2 separate regions of the Homo sapiens genome follow, and region 2 is linked to region 1. Evidence: fine-mapped expression QTL. A gene starts in region 1. The other region holds a variant in brackets. All regions are shown on one strand. Distances are from middle to middle.

The links. PIP is the estimated chance that this variant, and not a neighbour inherited with it, causes the effect.
Region 2: its variant is fine-mapped to the expression of SEBOX in monocytes after LPS (Fairfax 2014, PIP 0.95).

Annotation. Positions count from the first base shown.
Region 1 is chr17:28,360,510-28,369,529 of GRCh38, forward strand. SEBOX (SEBOX homeobox) reads right to left here and starts at 4,690. Exons shown (of 3, transcript NM_001080837.4): 1 at 4,612-4,690; 2 at 4,286-4,446; 3 at 2,997-4,139. The coding sequence starts at 4,642. The coding sequence ends at 3,759. It overlaps VMA12 (vacuolar ATPase assembly factor VMA12), which reads left to right. Exons shown (of 6, transcript NM_152464.3): 4 at 20-62; 5 at 226-338; 6 at 648-3,174. The coding sequence ends at 743. It overlaps VTN (vitronectin), which reads right to left. Exons shown (of 8, transcript NM_000638.4): 3 at 8,998-9,020; 4 at 8,780-8,919; 5 at 8,363-8,519; 6 at 8,012-8,164; 7 at 7,206-7,550; 8 at 6,775-6,972. The coding sequence ends at 6,860. It overlaps MIR4723 (microRNA 4723), which reads left to right and starts at 145; the gene lies at 145-225.
Region 2 is chr17:28,725,222-28,734,283 of GRCh38, forward strand. TLCD1 (TLC domain containing 1) reads right to left here and starts at 1,012. Exons shown (of 4, transcript NM_138463.4): 1 at 683-1,012; 2 at 260-342; 3 at 83-165. The coding sequence starts at 876. It overlaps NEK8 (NIMA related kinase 8), which reads left to right and starts at 3,567. Exons shown (of 15, transcript NM_178170.3): 1 at 3,567-3,639; 2 at 8,762-8,967. The coding sequence starts at 3,593. RefSeq lists enhancers at 548-1,271, 1,272-1,995, 2,720-3,443, 2,971-3,410, 3,444-4,167 and 3 more and a silencer at 791-1,320. The variant ATT/A (reference allele first, on the strand shown) is at 4,311.

The sequences.
Region 1 (9,020 bases):
TTCTTTTTCTTTTTCCCAGGATACAAGACATGGTGGGACTCTCAGCGACCTGGGAAAGCAAGGTGAGGTACTAGGAGATCAGGCTTCTAAAACCTTTTCCTGAGATGGGTCATGACACTCAGGCTTGTTGTTTGACTGAAACCCAGTTGGTGGGGGAGCCATGAGATAAGAGCACCTCCTAGAGAATGTTGAACTAAAGGTGCCCTCTCTGGCTCCTCCCCAAAGTGAGATCATTGAAGGCTCTGGTCATCACCATCTTCAATTTCATTGTCACGGTGGTTGCTGCCTTCGTCTGCACTTACCTTGGAAGCCAATATATCTTCACAGAAATGGCCTCGGTGAGTAGGCACTGGGCAGGGCAGGGTGCCCCTGGTGGGGGTGTTAGTGGGTAAGGGAGGACGTATGTGAAAGTGCCTTGCACAGGTTAGGTATTGAACAGATATTTATGCCATTAATAAGGGGAGCATTAGAGCTTTCCAGCAGTCACGGGAGGTTAGGTAATAACCCCAGGAGAAGCCACATTCTCTTTTCTTCCCCTCCCCCAACTTAGAGGGTGGTTGGGGGGCTCTCCATCCTCATTAAAGTTGCTGGGGTACAGAGCTGGTTGTTGGCCTGCATCCCTTAAGCCTGGTTCTCCCCATCTCCAGCGGGTGCTAGCTGCATTGATCGTCGCCTCTGTGGTGGGTCTGGCCGAGCTGTATGTCATGGTGCGGGCAATGGAAGGCGAGCTGGGAGAACTGTAACTGGTGCTTCATCATCAAGTCTAGAGAAGACTTTGGGGGCTTCAGGCTCCAATTGGCAGTCACCGACTCAGTCAACCCATCAGACTTTTTGTATTCAGCTCCAGTTAGTCAGAAGACCAGCCCAGGCCAGCTGCTGTTTCTGTGGGGAGCCCTAATCTTCTGTGAATTTCCAAAGGGAGCATTGGAGGAGATTGAGATAACACATCTTTAAAACAGAAAGAACTGGTCTTGGTCTATCAGTACCTCTTCCTGAATCTGGTACCCATCTGCCTTCTCCAGTTCATTCTAAACACTGCTGGGACTAGGGTTTTTCCATCAGGAGCAAATGGAATCCAGGCCTTCCCAGAAGTAGACCATACTGCCTTGAACTTGTCCATATGTACAAACTGATCACCAGCTTTCTCCATACATTTTTAATGCAGACCTGTAATTGAGTTCAGAAGCCTCCAAGAAAACAGAAAGGATCCCCTTTCTCCAGTTTGTGCTGGAAGAGGAGCTGATCAGAGACATCAAATAAGAGAAAGATGGGTTGCTAGAGGATGGTAGAACTGGAAGCAAGGCAGCTACCTTTTTGCAAAAGGAAATGGTGTTAGGCCCCTTTTCCAGAAGATAAGACAGACTCATAGAGATTAAATGATCACTATGGTCCTTCTTCTGTTAAATGGAGCCAAAGACGCCTATGTTGTTCTGAAGTCTTGTAATGTTTAACTTCTGAGAACTTAGATTAGTGGTGTGATGATAGAGTCTGTATAACGCATTGAAAAGGGTATCAGGCTTAGTTATTTATCCAATAAATATTTATTGTATGCAGGGTATTCCTATTTTAACTCCTGTGACAACACAAAGCATAGCGATTTCCATAGTTCTAACTGTTCAGGGTCTGCTCCTCCTGGTACACTCTTTTTGGTTCACTGTATGTACTCCTGTTGTCTTTTTTTTTTTTTCCAAAGCACTTTTCTGTTTTCATAAATTATATACTCATTCACTCAGTGGACACTTCCTCTACAATGTTTGCCAGTTTCTGTTAGTTGGGAGAAGTGTCAGCTGTGAAAAGAAAAAGTAGGTGGCATTTTACAGTGTTTCCAGTAACCTGAGCTATATAAAATTTGTGTTAAAAAGCTACACTGGGCCAGGTGAGGTGGCTCACACCTGTAATCGTAGCATTTTGGGAGGCTGAGGCAGGCGGATCACTTGAGGTTGGGAGTTTAAGACCAGCATGGCCAATATAGCGAAACCCCATCTTTACTAAAAATACAAAAAAATTAGCCAGGCGTGGTGGTACATGCCTGTAATCCCAGCACTTTGGGAGACCAAGGTGGGAGGATGCTTGAGTTCAGGAGTTTGAGACCAGCCTGGGCAACATGGCAAAAGCCCATCTCTACAAAAAAACGCAGAAATTAGCTGACATGGTAGCGCACGCCTGTAGTCCCAGCTACTCAGGAGGCTAAGGTGGGAGGATCACTTGAGCCTGGGAGGCAGAGGTTGCAGTAAGCTGAGTAAGCCAAGATCATGCTATTGCACTCTAGCCTGGATGACAGAGTGAGACCTTGTCTCAATGAAAAAGCAGGGGGCACTGGGAGGGGAGAACCAAATGCCCTATCCTCCAGTTCTCAGCATATAGAAGGGAGCTCTCTCATCTGCTAGCCACTCCTGCCTCACTGTGCCATGCTTTCTGTAATGCACTCTGGGTCCAGGGACTGCTTGGCAGGAGGTGGGAAGAACAAGAAGTTTAGGGCCTTCCCAGTTTCTTAGGGCCTGTCTGGAGAGGGAACTAGCGTTTACTGAGTTTTTACGATGTGTTACACACCATGTAAAGCCCTTTACCTACATTATTTCTTATACCCCAAACAGAGAGCAAATAAGTATCCCCATTTTTTAGTCACATAGAGTTCCAGAGTTGCCACAGTTACATCGCAAAGTCAGGATTTGAATCCAGTGCAGACCGCAAACACCATGGTTTTCTCTCCAAAGCAGAGCAGCTCCAGAGGTGGAGGTGACTGGAATGTCCTAGATTCAGTGGGACCAGGAGCTGGGGGTGCTAGCAGAGGCTCTCATCTCCCCAGGGTCTTGTCAGTCAGAGTCCTAAACCCTTCAATTAACTATCCCTCTAATCCCAGCTGAAGCCTGGGTAATACCTCCCACCAAGAGGTATCTGTGTGGAACCTGGCCCTATTTAGGGATTAGGTGATGGAGATAAATTTCCATGGCAAACGGCCCTCGTCCCCGTTCGTTTGCAGAGCACAACAATCCAGATTAAGGTACAGAGTTTGGGTTTTATTTGGAGATTAGTTGGTATTACAGGTGATGGTGATACCAAAACCCAATGCTGCTATACCTGCCTCCATCCCAGATCTGTCAGGTTGTCTCCACAGCCCCACATCAGAGGGCATCCAATCTGATCTTTGTGAAAATTAAATCAACATAAGCCCCAGCTTCCTATCTTTGCTTCATTACTTTAATGCCACTCCCTCTTCACATCCGTAGTTCTGATTAATTTGTCCAGGTGGTCGATGGTCAAGAGAGGGGGCCCTGACCCATAAAGAAGTTGGCTCTCCAGCAGTCTAGATGAGGAGCAGCACTCTCCTCTCCTACCTCACTTAGCAGTTAGCAAGGTAATGGCCTGGAGAGACCTCAGGAGACAGGAGCCTGCCCCTTCAGAAGGAGGAGGCCATCAGCTGGTGAGAACTGGGGACCAGGCCTGGCAAGAGTGGAGGAAAACATGACCCTCATCTCATCCTTCTGAAGGTACCACCTGCCACAACAATGAGCATATGCCCCAAAGGGGTCAGGGTGTGGGGTGGCAGGAGCCAGGCCCCAGTCTGCTTAGGACCTGCATCTAGGCTGGCCTGGAGGCCAGTGGAAGGGAGGGATGCCTGAGCTAAACTCCTTTCCCGTAGGGAATCCCTTTGCATAAAAAGTGGGGCCAGGGAATCCACTTCTGATGTGTTCAATCCCAGGAGGGGCAGGGTGGGCCACAGGAGTCAGAGGAGGGGCCTTGCAAGTTCTGGACAAAGACTAGGAGTGGTCCACATTGACGACAATGGCCAAGGCATAGATGAGGTCAGACAGGCTGCCTAGTGAAGTCTGGGGAGTAGCTCGCTCTAAAGAAGGGTGGACCTCTGAAGCCCCAGCTGATCCCCATGGGGCTACAGCTTTAGCCCCTTCCCAGCCCTGCCGTGGACTCAAGCCAGGAGCTGGACAGGAGCTATGTCGACACACTGAGGTGCGCTGAGGTGTGCCGCTGGAGGGTGGAGGTTGGCCTGGCATTTGGGGATCCCAGGGCTGCTGGAGGGTGTCTGGAAGAGAACAGGAGCTCTGGGGGCACTCAGACCCAGGGCTTAGAATTCCTGACTTCCTGTTCTTGATTATTTTGGCCCAGCGCTTCTGGAACCACACCTGCTAGGAAAGAAGAAGGGGTCTGTTCTGGCCCCAGCATCCCCTCCACCCAGGGACAGGGGAAACAACCTGAAGGCAGGCTACCCAGCGAAGGGGCTGTGGGCCAAGCCTAGATGTTGGCTGTGTGAGAAGGGGTCACAGCTCACCTGTACCTTGGCCTCAGGAAGGCAAGTGACCCAGGCCAGGTGCTCATGGGTGCTGATGTTGGGGTAGGGCCATGCTGCAAACGCCCTCTCCAGCTCCAGTAGCTGCCCTTTGCTGAAGGTGGTCCGCTTTCTCCGGTGGGAACCCAACCCGCTGCCACCGTCTGCAGGCCATGGTGGGGGTCAAGCTGGGACTCCCTGCAAGAGCCTCCACCCAGCCTCAAAGCCCTCAATCAACCCCGAAGTCCCTACTCCCACCCCTCTCCAACCGTCCTCATCCTACCATGGCCTGCGTTCTCACCCTGCCCACACTTCCCCCATCAGATCACCTGCTGAGGATGCATCCACAGGGCTGGGCATGGAGCTGGCAAAGGGTAAGGTGCCAGAGGGCCGTGCCAGAGGGCCATGCCAGGGCTGTGCCCACACCAGACCCCCCCATTTGGGTTTTATCATGCTCAGGGTGGCTGGCCCCGCCTTCAGGAGTGGAGAGGTTTAGAGTCCAGCTCAAGCAAGGCAGAGAAGTCTCGGTGGGGAAGAAGGGAGGCTGGAGGCCGGGTTGGGCTTATGAGGGTATGGGTGGGGCAAATTGTATACCCCCTGCCCCTCCAAGGCCTCGCAAAGGAAGCTGGACCCAGCATCCCTTCTCAAACCTCAAACTGGCAGTCTGTGCCTGAAATCCTATACTTCATGAAAATCCTCCCAGGGGTCCTTCCAGGCAGCCAAAGAAAACCATCTCTCCAGTGCTCCCAGGCACTGGCTGCCCCTTCTGGAGCCCTTAGTGCTCTGAACCTGGCTACCTTCAGGGGAGAGGGAGTGGAGTCCTCTCCCACAACTGGGGACTGGGCTGGTGAAGTGGGACAGGATGAGAAGGATGGTAGGGTGTCAACGGGATGAATGGGAGCCAGCCGCTGTCAGCAGGACTGGGGAACAGATGTCACCACCAGATTGCCCTCAGGTCTGCTTTAGAGCTTTGCCTCATCTAACCCTTTCTCTCTCTGGCCCCTCAAGAGCCAGATGGACTTCCTGGGGTTCGGAACCTGGAACCAGAGGAGGTTCCACAGGTGCAGTTGAGGGGTTCTAAGAAAGATGATAAAGATGTTTATGTGTACAGTATTCTCTTCCTTGGATATATTCTGAGCCACTTTTTCTTAAATTTTGAAAATTTTTTTCTTTTTTCTTTTTTTTTCAAGATGGAGTCTTGCTTTGTCACCCAGGCTGGAGTGCAGTGGCGTGATCTTGGCTCACTGCAACCTCCACCTCCCGAGTTCAAGCAACTCCACCTCCTGCCTCTTCCTCCGGAGTAGCTGGGGTTACAGGCGCCTGCCACCACACCCGGCTAATTTTTTGTATTTTTAGTAGAGACGGGGTTTCACCATGTTGGCCAGGCTGGTCTCGAACTCCTAACCTCATGATCCACGGGCCTTGGTTTCCCAAAGTGCTGGGACCACAGGCATGAACCACCGTGCCTGGCCTAAATTTTCTTTTTCTCACTCTGTTGCCCAGGCTGGAGTACAGTGGTGTGATTTCTGCTCACTGCAGCCTCAACCTCCCAAGCTCAAGCAATCCTCCCACCTCAGCCTCCTAAATAGCTGGGACTACAGGCACACACCACCCATAAGTTGCCCAGCTAACTTATTTATTTTTGTAGAGATGGTGTCTTGCTATATTGCCTAGGCTGGTCTCAAACTTCGGGATTCCAGCAATCCTCCCACCTTGGCTTCCCAAAGTGCTGGAATTACAGGCATGAGCCACCATGCCCAGACAAAAATTCCCCCCCTTTTTTATTTTGTTCTGTTTTTAGAGATAGAGTCTCACTCTATTCCCCAGGTTGGAGTGCAGTGGTACAATAATAGCTCACTGCAGCTTCAAACTCCTGGGCTCCTGGGCCACTTTTCCACAAGAAGTGTGTGCTTTTGAATTTCCTTTCAGTTTCTGCCCTTCACTATCTCTCCTGGTCTTGCTGCTCCCCATCCTAGACCCTAGACAGAGACCTCAAGAAAGGCTCACCCTAGGGGTGGGTTTGGGGAAGCACAGTGACTGGTTCCCCAAGTGCTCAGGAGTCAGAGCTACTAGGATTTCAGATCAGGATGGACAAAAAAGCTGAGCCAGAACCCCACCAACTCTTGCCCCTTCTCTCTCCTCCAAGACCCTAGTCAACTCCAAGGGGCAAAGCAAGCCTCACCCACGGAGGCTGGCCTGGTAACTTTGTCATCATCAGAGGAGTTCAAGTGTCTGCTTAGCTGCTGGTGGGTTGCTGGGGGCTGCTTAGCTCAAGAGGAAGGGTAGCTCTCAGGAGGCCTTCCCCAGCCCCAAACCGGTTCACAGAGAGGTCCTGAGCACAGAGAGGTCCTGAGCCCAACATGGGTTGGACACGGCGAGGCCCTTCTCTGTCCCTTCTCTGTCCCCCTCACCAACCCATTCTGACAGTCCAGCTTCCTCTCCTTTACCCAGACAGGGATGTGTCTACCCCAGTCAGAACAATAATTTTAAACTCGGGGCTAAGGGACCTTTATTGGGCTGGGGGAAGGAGATGGGAGGAGGGAGCTACAGAGGGCCCGGCCATGTGGGCTCTGACTCCTACAGATGGCCAGGAGCTGGGCAGCCCAGCCAGTACTGAGCGATGGAGCGTGGGTAGGGAGGGTCCACAGTGTCCACTCGCCGTGTGCGAAGATTGACTCGGTAGTACTTGTCTGGAAGAGAGGAAAGCAGAGGATGCGTGAGGCCCAGCCTGGCCCTGCCCACTCTTCCCTTGAGAAGTCTAGGGTCTCTCCCAGAAGGGAAAGTGAACATCCATGATGCAGCTAAGGACTTCTGGCCTGGCTTTCTGTGGTCACTACTTGCAGGCTGCGTTCAGCCCTTGTGCACCAGGGACAGCAAGGAAAACCCAAGCTAGACCAGCTTCAGGGGTGGCAGCGGCTCCTACCTCCAGAGAAGAAGAAGACACTCTGGATGGGTTCACAGGTGGCAGGCACAAGCCAGTCCATCCTGTAGTCATCATAGTTGTTGGCTCCCAAGTTGCTCTCCTCACTGGAGAACAAGGACAGCCACGTGGCGCGGGATGGCCGGCGGGAGTTCTGGTTGCGGCCACGGCTGTGGCCTCGTTGTGAACGGTAGCCTTTGCGGTTGCGATGCCTAAACCTTTGTTTCTTGGCCAAGGAGGGGCGGGGTGCCATGCCTGAGATGTAGATGCGGCCAGCCATGGCTGCGTCCACTTGCCCTGGCACACCGTGCCAGTCCCGGCTAATGAACTGGGGCTGTCTGGTACCAGCTGTGGCAGGGAAGGGGTGAATGAGAGGTCTTGGGGGTCCGAATCTTGCCCCTTCCAGCGGGGCCATTAGAGTTCATCTGCTGCACCTTGCCCAAAGACACACAGCAGCGAATGGCAGAGCCAGGCCTTTGACTCTCAGTCCAATTCCCTTCCCCCTGTGCTTTCCCTCCACCATATCACTGGTGTCTCGACCCCACCCCCCCAGGCCCCCTAAACTCCTCAGCCACAGCCCCTCCCTCTGCTGGCTGTGCTCTCAGCTGTGCTAGGCAAAGTCCAAGGTGTGGGGTCCAGGTAGAGCTGAGCTTTCCCCAAAAGGTCAACAGAAGCAAAGTCTGGCCTGAGCAAACAGACTTTGATCGATAGCTCCACAACCACAGCCCCCTCCAGCCGGCCTGGCTCTACCAATACCAAGGGGTTTCAGCCCTTTTGAGGGAGAAGCAAGACTTGCCCTCTCTCCATACCAGAGGTTCTGCCCCAGAAGAGAAGCTCGAAGATGTCCTCCCAGCTGTCCCGCTGCATCATGGCAAAGTGTTCAAACACAGCCGACAGGGAGCTGCCTTCACACTCCTCCTGACTGGGCTGGTGCTGGAACTGGTACTCCCAGTACTGTTTCCCTGAGGAGCAGGGTGGTGGGCATTAGGAGGGCTGGGCCAGGGCAAGACTGGAGATCCCAGAGGCTGTTGAAGTTAGGATCTCCCAGCATGAGGTGGGGGTCAGGGGTGGGCACATGCTGAGGCCTGTCCCCAGTGAAATGTGAAAGGAATCCAAGACTGCTCCACTGCCTGCTCAGTCTCCCACCACCCCCTGAGTACCCTTGAAGAAGTAGACCCGCTCCCGGCCACTGTAGCTATGGGCAGGGAGGGCCAAGGCTGCATCCACGTTGTCCGGGATGCCATCGAAGCCGTCAGAGATATTTCGGGGGTAATCAGGGTCCAGGACACCATCCTCAAAGCGCCAGTACTGACTACCCTAAGAGGTGGGGAAAGTGAAAAGGGGTATGGAGGCCGCTGGCTGGGCACAGAGGCAGAGTCCCTTGCCCTAAGGCAGCCGTTCCCAGGTCCAGGTTCACTGCCCAGGACCTGGAGTCTTGGGGCTGCCCTGTGCTCACAGAGCTCCCACCAGGTCCTGCAGGGCCCTGGGTCCAGCTTCCCTGTCCACCCTGTCCCTGGGAGCAATAGCTCTCAAACCCTCCCTAGATGCTTTCTACCCTGGCCCACAGCCCCTGGCACCTTGAAGAGGTAGGTCTTCCCCTGACAGTTGATGCGGGTGAAGGCGGCATCGATGGGGCCCTCGATGCCCCAGACATCTCGGATGAGCTTGGGGTACCCAGGCCTCACTGCCTTTTCGTCCAGTTCATAGCAGTACTGCCCTAGAGTGGAGGAGATGGTGTGAGAGCAGGGACGCTCCTGGGGCAGACCCGCATCCCCAGTACCTGCCCTGGATTCACCTCGGAAGGCAAAGAGGGAACCG
Region 2 (9,062 bases), 360 kb after region 1:
CCTTCTCCCAGATTCAGAAAGACGGAGCTGAGACTAGATTACTGACACCAGGCCTATACCACATAGTCTGCTTCTCTCTTACCATGACGTGATGGACAAGGTATTCCCAAGAGGCTCGCGTCTGTCCGCTAGCCACGATGTCCACCGTATCGTGGATGAAATACCCTAGTGGAGGGATGGGGCAAGAGATCATGAACTGAACAAGCAGCTTCCTTCTCCCTGTCCCCAATTTGCCTCCCGCTTCCTGGGCAAGACCTACCCGCAGAGAAGCAAACGAGCAAATAGCCAGAAAGTGACCACGCCGTCTCAATCTCCACTAACATGTCAGGAGTCTGCCATACACTGGAAAGGAGGGAAGAGGAGGCTCTGCATTTCGGCACCCTCAAGGACCATCAACTTCTCGGTTACCCTTCGCAGCCCCGGGGGATCCTGGGCTCGCGCTAGTGGCTGACTGGGAAGCTAAGAGTGGCTGGGCAAAACCCAAGAGCCTCCAGTTTCCCAGGGGCGATCCCCCTCCCCTGGGGCCACTGCGGCTTTTGGTTGGATAGGATACCAAACGGGATCAGGTGAGACTGCGTGGCCTCAGCCCGCCAGTGAGCGATGGGGGTAGTAACACAAGAGCCGGCCCCGGCTCCCCGCTCAGGATCCCCTGGCCACCTCATTTCCACAGTCGCTCACTCACCACAGCAGTGCCCAGATCCCCGACACAATGGAGTGAGCGAAGGAGACGAGCAGGTTGTGCCAGCGCCAGGTGCGCAGGGGGTCGGCGCGCACGTGCACGGGTAGGGGCAGGCGACAGAGCGCGCGCCGGAGCGCCCGGAAGGTCAGCGTGGCGCCCAGGAGCAGCGGCAGGGCGGGGTGCAGCAGTCGGGGCATGCTGGCCCTCCCTGCCGTCCGCCCTCGAGGCCGCCTCCTAGGTCTGTTCTGGGAACCGGGATCCCTCTCGGGCCAGTCCAGGCCGGCCGCCTCTCCCGCCGGCCGCCAGCCCCACACAGTTGGCGAAGCCCTCTAGGCCCCTTGGCTCCTCCTCGCCCTCCCTGCGAGGCCTCTGCCCCCGCCCCCAGCCGCCCGCGCCCCCGCCCCGCCCGCCTGCCCCCGCCCCGTCCGCCTGCCCCCGCCCCTCAGGCGCTGCTGCCGCGCGAGCCGGGTGTCCCCGTGGCCTCTCGGCCACCGGCCGGCTCCCGCGGACTTCGGGTAACTAGGAGCTGTGCTGGGGGCGTCGTCGCCGAGACACCCCTCGCTGGCGCCTCCCGACTGCCGACGGAGTCCCCGCTGCCCTCGCTCGCCTGGCCTCATTAACCCGCGTCCCCACTTTTCCCCGGGCCACCGGCTACCCCGCCCTGGGCGGGTACCGCGAGAGCTCTCTCCGCCCTCTACTTTCTGCGCAGAGCTGGACGGGACCCGACACGCCCACGCCCCCTAAGTCCTGGTCCTGGGGTGGGCTCCGGAGCCCCGCGTCCGACAGTGGTCTCCGTGCAGACCCAGTGCCCCTACCGCACCACTCGCAGTCTTCTGGCCGGAGTCCCGTGTTTACCTGTCCCTCCCGCGCCCGCGAGGTGGGCACTTGGGAACTGCTGAGTAACCCATCGCCACCTCTTCCCGCCGGCTCTTAAACTCCTGGGGCCGGGCGGCTGTCACAGTCCTCCCTCAGACAGTCCCGGCCCTCGGCCCGGCTCCCCGGAGGCTGGGCAAGCAAGACCTCCGATTTGCCGGGACAGCTGGAGTGACCCGCGCTCTCCAAGCCGGTAGCTTGCAGCAGTTGCGGCTCCTAGCCACTAGGTGTCAGCCTGCCCTCACTGTGGCGCGGGCTCCCCCTCCCGCCTCCGAGCGAGGCAGCTGCTTTCGGGGAGAGTTTAGGTATAAACTCTGGGCGAAAGGAGGAGCAGCTGAGAGCCAGCGAGGGAAGTTAAGCGGAGATGAGAGCGGGGAGGGAGAAGAGGGTAGTAATAGAGGAGGGGCGGGAAGAAGCGGGGGAGGGGAAAGGTGCTGCGGGCGGGAGGAAGAAGCCGAGAAAACCTGAGGCGCAAGGACCCAGGGACCAAGCCGTTTGAGTGTTTTCCTCCCCTATGGCTCCAAGGTTACACATTAACCCCTGTGGGACTCTTAAGTCAACCAAAGCCCAGTCGGTTTCTAGGTGAGAACACGGGTGTCCTGGGTGAGCGGCTTTCCCGCCCCTCCCCTTGGCTCACAGAGCTGCTCTGTCCGCCGGCCGACACCGGCCTGAGCCAGCGCCCTTCCAGCAGTCATTCCACGTGGGTGGGTTTGGATACCCTTGCGAGAGCCAGGACAGGGGCAGAAGATAAAACGCCCCTTTCCTCACACCCCTTGCCCACTCTGATACAGGGACGCTAACCTTCAGCTAGTGACCATCCTCCTCCTGAATACTGATGTTTTCTTTCTTTCTTTTTTTTTTTTTGAGATGGAGGCTCACTCTATCGCCCAGGCTGGAGTGCAATGGCACGATCTCGGCTCACTGCAACCTCCGCCTCCCAGATTCAAGCGATTCTCCTGCCTCAGCCTCCCGAGTAGCTGGGATTACAAGCGCGCGCCACCGTGCCCAACTAATTTTTGTATTTTTAGTAGAGACGAGGTTTTACCATGTTGGCCAGGTTGGTCTCAAACTCCTGACCTCAGGTGATCCGCCCGCCTCGGCCTCCCCAAAGTGCTGGAATTACAGGCGTGAGCCACCGCGCCTGGCCGAATACTGAGTTTTTCTAGAGCTCCCGCAGAGCAGGAGCCCGGGAGAACCTGGAATTAACCTCACTTCCGGTAAAGAGCCTAGCTGGTCACACTAACCAGCCCCCTGCCTCTAGGCTTTTGCCTTGAGCTCATTTCGGCGAAACCGCGGTCTTTCCTTCTCCCCTTGATGCTTTCAGGTACTGACCCACTACCGCCCCCATCTTCCCCCATGGGAAGATGAGCACTGAGGGCAGATTACCCTCCTGCAGCGCGTGTGTGAAAGGGGAGTTGAGAGTGCTGACGAGCGCGGCGCTCACTAGTCGGGACGGCCCGAGACCGTGTCATGTCCTCTTCAGGTGAATCAACTTGCACGACTTGGGATTTCCCCCGTCCCTCCCCAGGCAAACACGAAACCAACCCTGCTGCCTTCTCCCAGGAGCGCTGGTCTCGGTCGTTTTGGGTGTGTTTATCGTTTGCGTGCCAAGGAGAACCCGCTTTCTCCTGAAATAGCGTCACTCGTGGGCAAGAAGGGGGTCAATCTTCTCTTCCCACCCCTTCCCGGCCTGTGGGGTTTAACTCTCGGGAACGCGACATCCTTTTAGTCTAGCAAGCTTTACAAGGGCTGGGTATATGTGTGGGAGGGGCGGGTACCGTGCCCGCCATTGCGGGCGCGCCCTATTTTCTTGCCCTATTCTTGGACACTGCGTGGGGCAGGGTCGTGAGGGGAAAAGTGACGGCGTGTCGCAGCGGGAGGTGTGTGGTGCAGGCCCACAAATACGGACGCGTGGCGGAACCCACACCTAGGGCGCTGGCTCCGCCCCGCAAGCCGCTCGCCGTGAAGGGGCGGGGCCCAGAGTGGGTGGGTCCGCGCACGCGCCGCGTGGGGGACGGAAGTGAAACTCTAAGAAATGAGATGGAGAAGTACGAGCGGATCCGAGTGGTGGGGAGAGGTGCCTTCGGGTGAGCCAGGGCTCTGGGGGAGGAAACTGCTAGGGGATAGGGAAAATAAGCCCCAATTCCGCCCGCGAAGTCGCCGCCCGCCTAATCCCGCCCCAAGGCGTGAGCGCCACTCTGGGAAGCCCCGCCCAAGCTTCCGGTCCCAGTCCCCCGGGGAGACTCCGCCTCTACGGAGGCCACGCCCCTGACAGGCCCATTGCTCCGCCCACTGAGTTATGTTAGCTTCTTTATTCATTCGTTCAACAAATACTGAGTGCCAGCTATGTATGTCAGGCTTTGGCCGCTGGGTATATAGTTAGAACCGGAACGGGCGTGGTCTTTTCCCTCTTGGAACTTACTGACTGTGGGAAAGTTATACAATAAACAAAACATTATGAAGTAAGAAGTTATAGCAGTTATGAAGTGTTATTAGCAGGTTGTGAGGATAGAGTACATTACCAGTGAGAATACTTATATGAGATGGTCAAGGAAGAATTCTCTGAGAAGGGAGATTGCTTGCTTGCTTGATTGATTTTTAAGACAGAGTCTCCCTCTGTCACCCCGGCTGGAGTTCAGTGGCACGATCTTGGCACACTGCAACCACCACCTCCTGGGTTCAAGCAATCGTTGTGCCTCAGCCTCCCGAGTAGCTAGGATTACAGGCGTGCGCCACCATGCCCGGCTAAATTTTTTGG[ATT/A]TTTTTTTTTTTTTTTTTTTTTTGAGGCAGTCTCACTCTGTCGCAGTGGCGCGATCTCGAGTGCAGTGGCACTATCTCAGCTCACTGCAACCTCTGCCTCCCTGGTTCAAGCGCTTCTCCTGCCTCAGCCTCCCGAGTAGCTGGGACTACAGGCACGCGCCACCATGCCCAGCTAATATTTTTTGTGTTTTTAGTACAGATGGGGTTTCGCCATGTTGGCCAGGCTGGTCTCAAATTCCTGACCTCAGGTGATCCGCCCGCGCCGGCCTCCCTAAGTGCTGGAATTACAGGCGTGAGCCACCGCGACAGGCCAGAAGTGAGATTTAAGGCCAAGACTTGAGGAATGAGGACCAGTAGTCTGCAGGTGAAGGGAGAACTTTTCAGGCAAAGGAAATAGCGTATGTGAAATGTCTCACATGGGAAAACAGAGCATTCAAGAAACCGAGAAAGACTAGTAATAGTTGGAATGTAGTGGGCAAGGTAGAGAATGGTATAAAATGTAATTGTCGAGGGCGGGGACTAGATTATGGCCTGATAACCTGAGATAAAAGGTTCATTTGCCACAAACGGTTTTGTTTTGTTTTTGTTTTTGTTTTTGAGACGGAGTCTTGCACTGTCGCTCAGGCTGGAGTGTAGTGGCAATCTCAGTTCACTGCAATCTCCGCCTCCCGGGTTCACGCAATTCTCCTGCCTCAGCATCCTGAGTAGCTGGGACTACAGGCACACGCCACAACAACCGGCTAATTTTTTTTTTTTTTTTTTTTTTTTTTTTGTGAGACAGAGTCTCCTCTGTTGCCCAGGCTGGAGTGCAATGGCACCATCTTGGCTTACTGCAAGCCCCGCCTCCCGGGTTCAAGCAATTCTCCTGCCTCAGCCTTACAGGCGTGTGCCACCATGCCTGGCTAATTTTTTGTATTTTTAGTAGAGACAGGGTTTCACCATGTTGGCCAGCCTGGTCTCGAACTCCTGACCTCAGGCGATCCACCTGCTTCTGCCTCCCAAAGTGTTGGGATTACAGGCGTGAGCCACCACTCCCAGCCACCAGGAAGGGTTTTAAAGAGGAAGAGTGATCCTGAGACTTGGCAGAGTTTTCTGAAAAGGGGCAGGGTGCAGTGGCTCACGCCTATAATCCTAGCACTTTGGGAGGCCGAGATGGGCAATTGCTTGAGCTTAGGAGTTAGAGACCAGCCTGGGCAACACAATGAGTCCCCCTGTCTACAAAAAAATAAAAAAATTAGCCAGGTATGGTGGCATTGGCATGTGCCTGTAGTCCCAACTACTCAGGAGGCTGAGGTGGGAGGATCACTTGAGCATGGGAGGTGGAGGCTGTAGTAAGCTGAGATGAGACCCCTGCACTTCAACTTGGTTGACAGAGTGAGAACCTATCTAAAAAAAGAAATAATACAAGAAAAAAAGAAAGAAAGGAAAGAAAGAAGGGGCCGGGCACGGTGGCTCAGGCCTGTAATTCTAGCACTTTGGGAGGCCGAGGTGGTTGGATCACCTGAGGTCAAGAGTTCGAGACCAGCCTGGCCAACACAGTGAAACCCCATCTCTACTAAAAATACAAAATTTAGCTGGGTGTTGTGACGGCTACTTGGGAGGCTGAGTCAGGAGAATCGCTTGAACCTGGAAGGCAGAGGTTGCAGTGAGCTGAGACTGTGCCATTGCACTACAGCCTAGGCAACAAGAGTGAAACTCTGTCTCAAAAAAAAATAAAAACAAAAAGGCCGGGCGTGGGGGTCATGCCTGTAATCCCAGCACTTTGGGAGGCCGAGGCGGGCAGGTCACGAGGTCAAGAGATCGAGACCATCCCGGCCAACATGGTAAAACCCCGTCTCTACTAAAAATAAAAAAATTAGCTGGGCGTGGGTGGCACGCGCCTGTAGTCCCAGCTACTCGGGAGGCTGAGGGAGGAGAATTGCTTGAACCTGGGAGGCGGAGGATGTAGTGAGCCGAGATCGCGCCGCTCCACTCCCGCCTGGCAACAGAGTGAGACTCCTTCTCAAAAATAAAAAAAATAGAAAAATAAAAAATCTTATCAGACCATTCCTCTATATTTTGTCTTTCTTTCTTTCTTTTTTTTTTTCTGAGACAGAGTCTCGCTCTGTCACCCAGACTAGAGTGCAGTGGCACCATCTCGGCTCATTGCAAGCTCCGCCTCCCAGGTTCACGCCATTCTTCTGCCTCAGCCTCCCTAGCAGCTGGAACTACAGGCGCCCGCCACCACTCCCGGCTAATTTTTTTGTATTTTTTAGTAGAGACGGGGTTTCACCATGTTAGCCAGTATGGTCTCGATCTGCTGACCTCGTGATCCGCCTGCCTCAGTCTCCCAAAGGCCTGGGATTACAGGCGTGAGCCACCGCGCCTGGCCCCAATTTTTTTTTTTTTTTTTTTTTTTTTTTTTTTTTTTTTTTTGAGACGGAGTCTTGCTCTATCTTCTAGGCTGGACTGCAGTGGCGCAATCTAGGCTCACTGCAAGCTCCGCCTCACGGGTTCACGCCATTCTACTGCCTCAGTCTCCCGAGTAGCTGGGACTACAGGCACCCACCAGCATGCCTAGCTAATTTTTTGTATTTTTAGTAGAGACGGGGTTTCATCGTGTTAGCCAGGATAGTAAGATTTTTAAATTGCATTCTGGGGCTGGGCATGGTGGCTCATGCCCATAATCCCAGCACTTTGGGAGGCCGAGGTGGGAGCATATCTTGAGGCCACGAGTTCAAGACCAACCTGGCCAACATAGTGAGACCCATATCTATAAAAAAAAGAAAAATAAATAAAAAATAAATGTCATTCTGGTTCATGTAGAATTTAGATTTGAGGGTGACAGGAGTGAAAGGGACCATTTTGGAGAGTTATACAGTATTTTAGGCGAGAAATTATGATGACTATAGGGCAAGGGCTGTAGAGAGGGCACAGAGAATTGGATGGATTTACAGTATTGCAGAGGTAGAAATAGGATTTGCTTGTGTGAAATGGAGGAAAGATTCTAGGGCGATTTTCTTTTTTCTTTTCTTTTTTTTTTTTTTTTTTTTTTTTGAGGTGGAGTCTCACTCTGTCGCCCAGGCTGGAGTGCAGTGGCGCCATCTCGGCTCACAGCAAGCTCCACCTCCCAGGTTCAGGCCATTCTGCTGCCTCAGCCTCCCGAGTAGCTGGGATTACAGGCGCCTGCCACCACACCCAGCTAATTTTTGTATTTTGGGTGGAGATGGGGTTTCACCATTTTGGCCAGGTTGTTCTCAAATTCCTGACCTCAAATGCTCCACCCACCTCGGCCTCCCAAAGTGTTAGTATTACAAGTGTGAGCCATTTCGCCCGGCCTAGGCTGATTTTCAAGTGTCTGTTTTTTTGTTGTTTTGTTTTGAGACCATCTCACTTGGTCACCCAGGCTGGAGTGCAGTGGCGCAATCATGGCTAACTGTATCTTCAATGTCCTAGGCTCAGGTGATCCTCCCACCTCATCCTCCAGAGCAGCTGGGACCACAGAGGCTTGCCACCATGCTCAGCTAATTTTTTTTTTTTTTTTTTTTTGCGAGAGTGGGTTTCACCATGTTGCTCAGGCTGGTCTTGAACGCCTGGACTCAAGTGATCTACCTGCCTTGGCCTCCCAAAGTGCTGAGATCACAGGCCTTAGCCACTTGGCCCTGCCTCAGGTTTCTGATTTTAGCAGTTTCTGATTTTAATAACTGGAGGATGATGGTAGCATTTACTGAGATGGAAGAGACTGAGCAAGGAAAGGTTTGGAGGCAGGAATCAAGAGTTTTATTTTGAATTTGTTAAAATTTAGGATGACTGTGAGCCATTCAAGTGGATATCTGAGTCTAGGGTTCAGAAGAGAAGCCTGATCTGGAGGTAAAAATTTGAGACTTAGATCAGCTTATAGTCCACTCATTCAACAAATACTTATTGACTGCCTATTGTGTGCTAAATATTGGGCTATGCACTGGGGTTATTGTGGTGAACAAGAATGTTGTAGTCCCTGCTTTTATGGAGACTAACCACAGAATTAAAATAAAATAATATGAATGGCTTCTATTCATTGAGCGTTTTCTTTGTGCTGGTCACTGCACTCAGTGCCTTACATGCATTTTCTCATTCCATCCTCTCAACAACCCTGGGAGGCCCATTTCATTTTCCAGACAATGATGTCACATAATGTATCAAACCAGATAACTAGTAAGAGGAGGCACCCAGATTTGAACCCAGGCAGTCTGTGGGAACTTAGAGATCAAGACTAACTTTACCTCACAGTGCCTGTGGTGAAACTGAAGTCCCACACAGCTTGTAATCAGTTCTCCCTGTTCCCAAGTTCAGTGTTCTGTGCGCTTGGTTAGATGACCTCTCAGTCTAGAACCCTCTTCCAAGAGACATCAGTCACTAGGCTGCACCGCCCTGCCTGATATGTGGCTGGAGGCTTAGCTGGTAACCTGTCCCTGTCCTCCGTATCCCTAGGATTGTGCACCTGTGCCTGCGAAAGGCTGACCAGAAGCTGGTGATCATCAAGCAGATTCCAGTGGAACAGATGACCAAGGAAGAGCGGCAGGCAGCCCAGAATGAGTGCCAGGTCCTCAAGCTGCTCAACCACCCCAATGTCATTGAGTACTACGAGAACTTCCTGGAAGACAAAGCCCTTATGATCGCCATGGAATATGCACCAGGTGGGCCAGCCTCCTTACAGTGGCCTGGCTGGAGGGCCTCTTACCTCTGGGACAGGCAGACACAGATCTCCTGGCTTCCCTCCTTGGAATGGGCA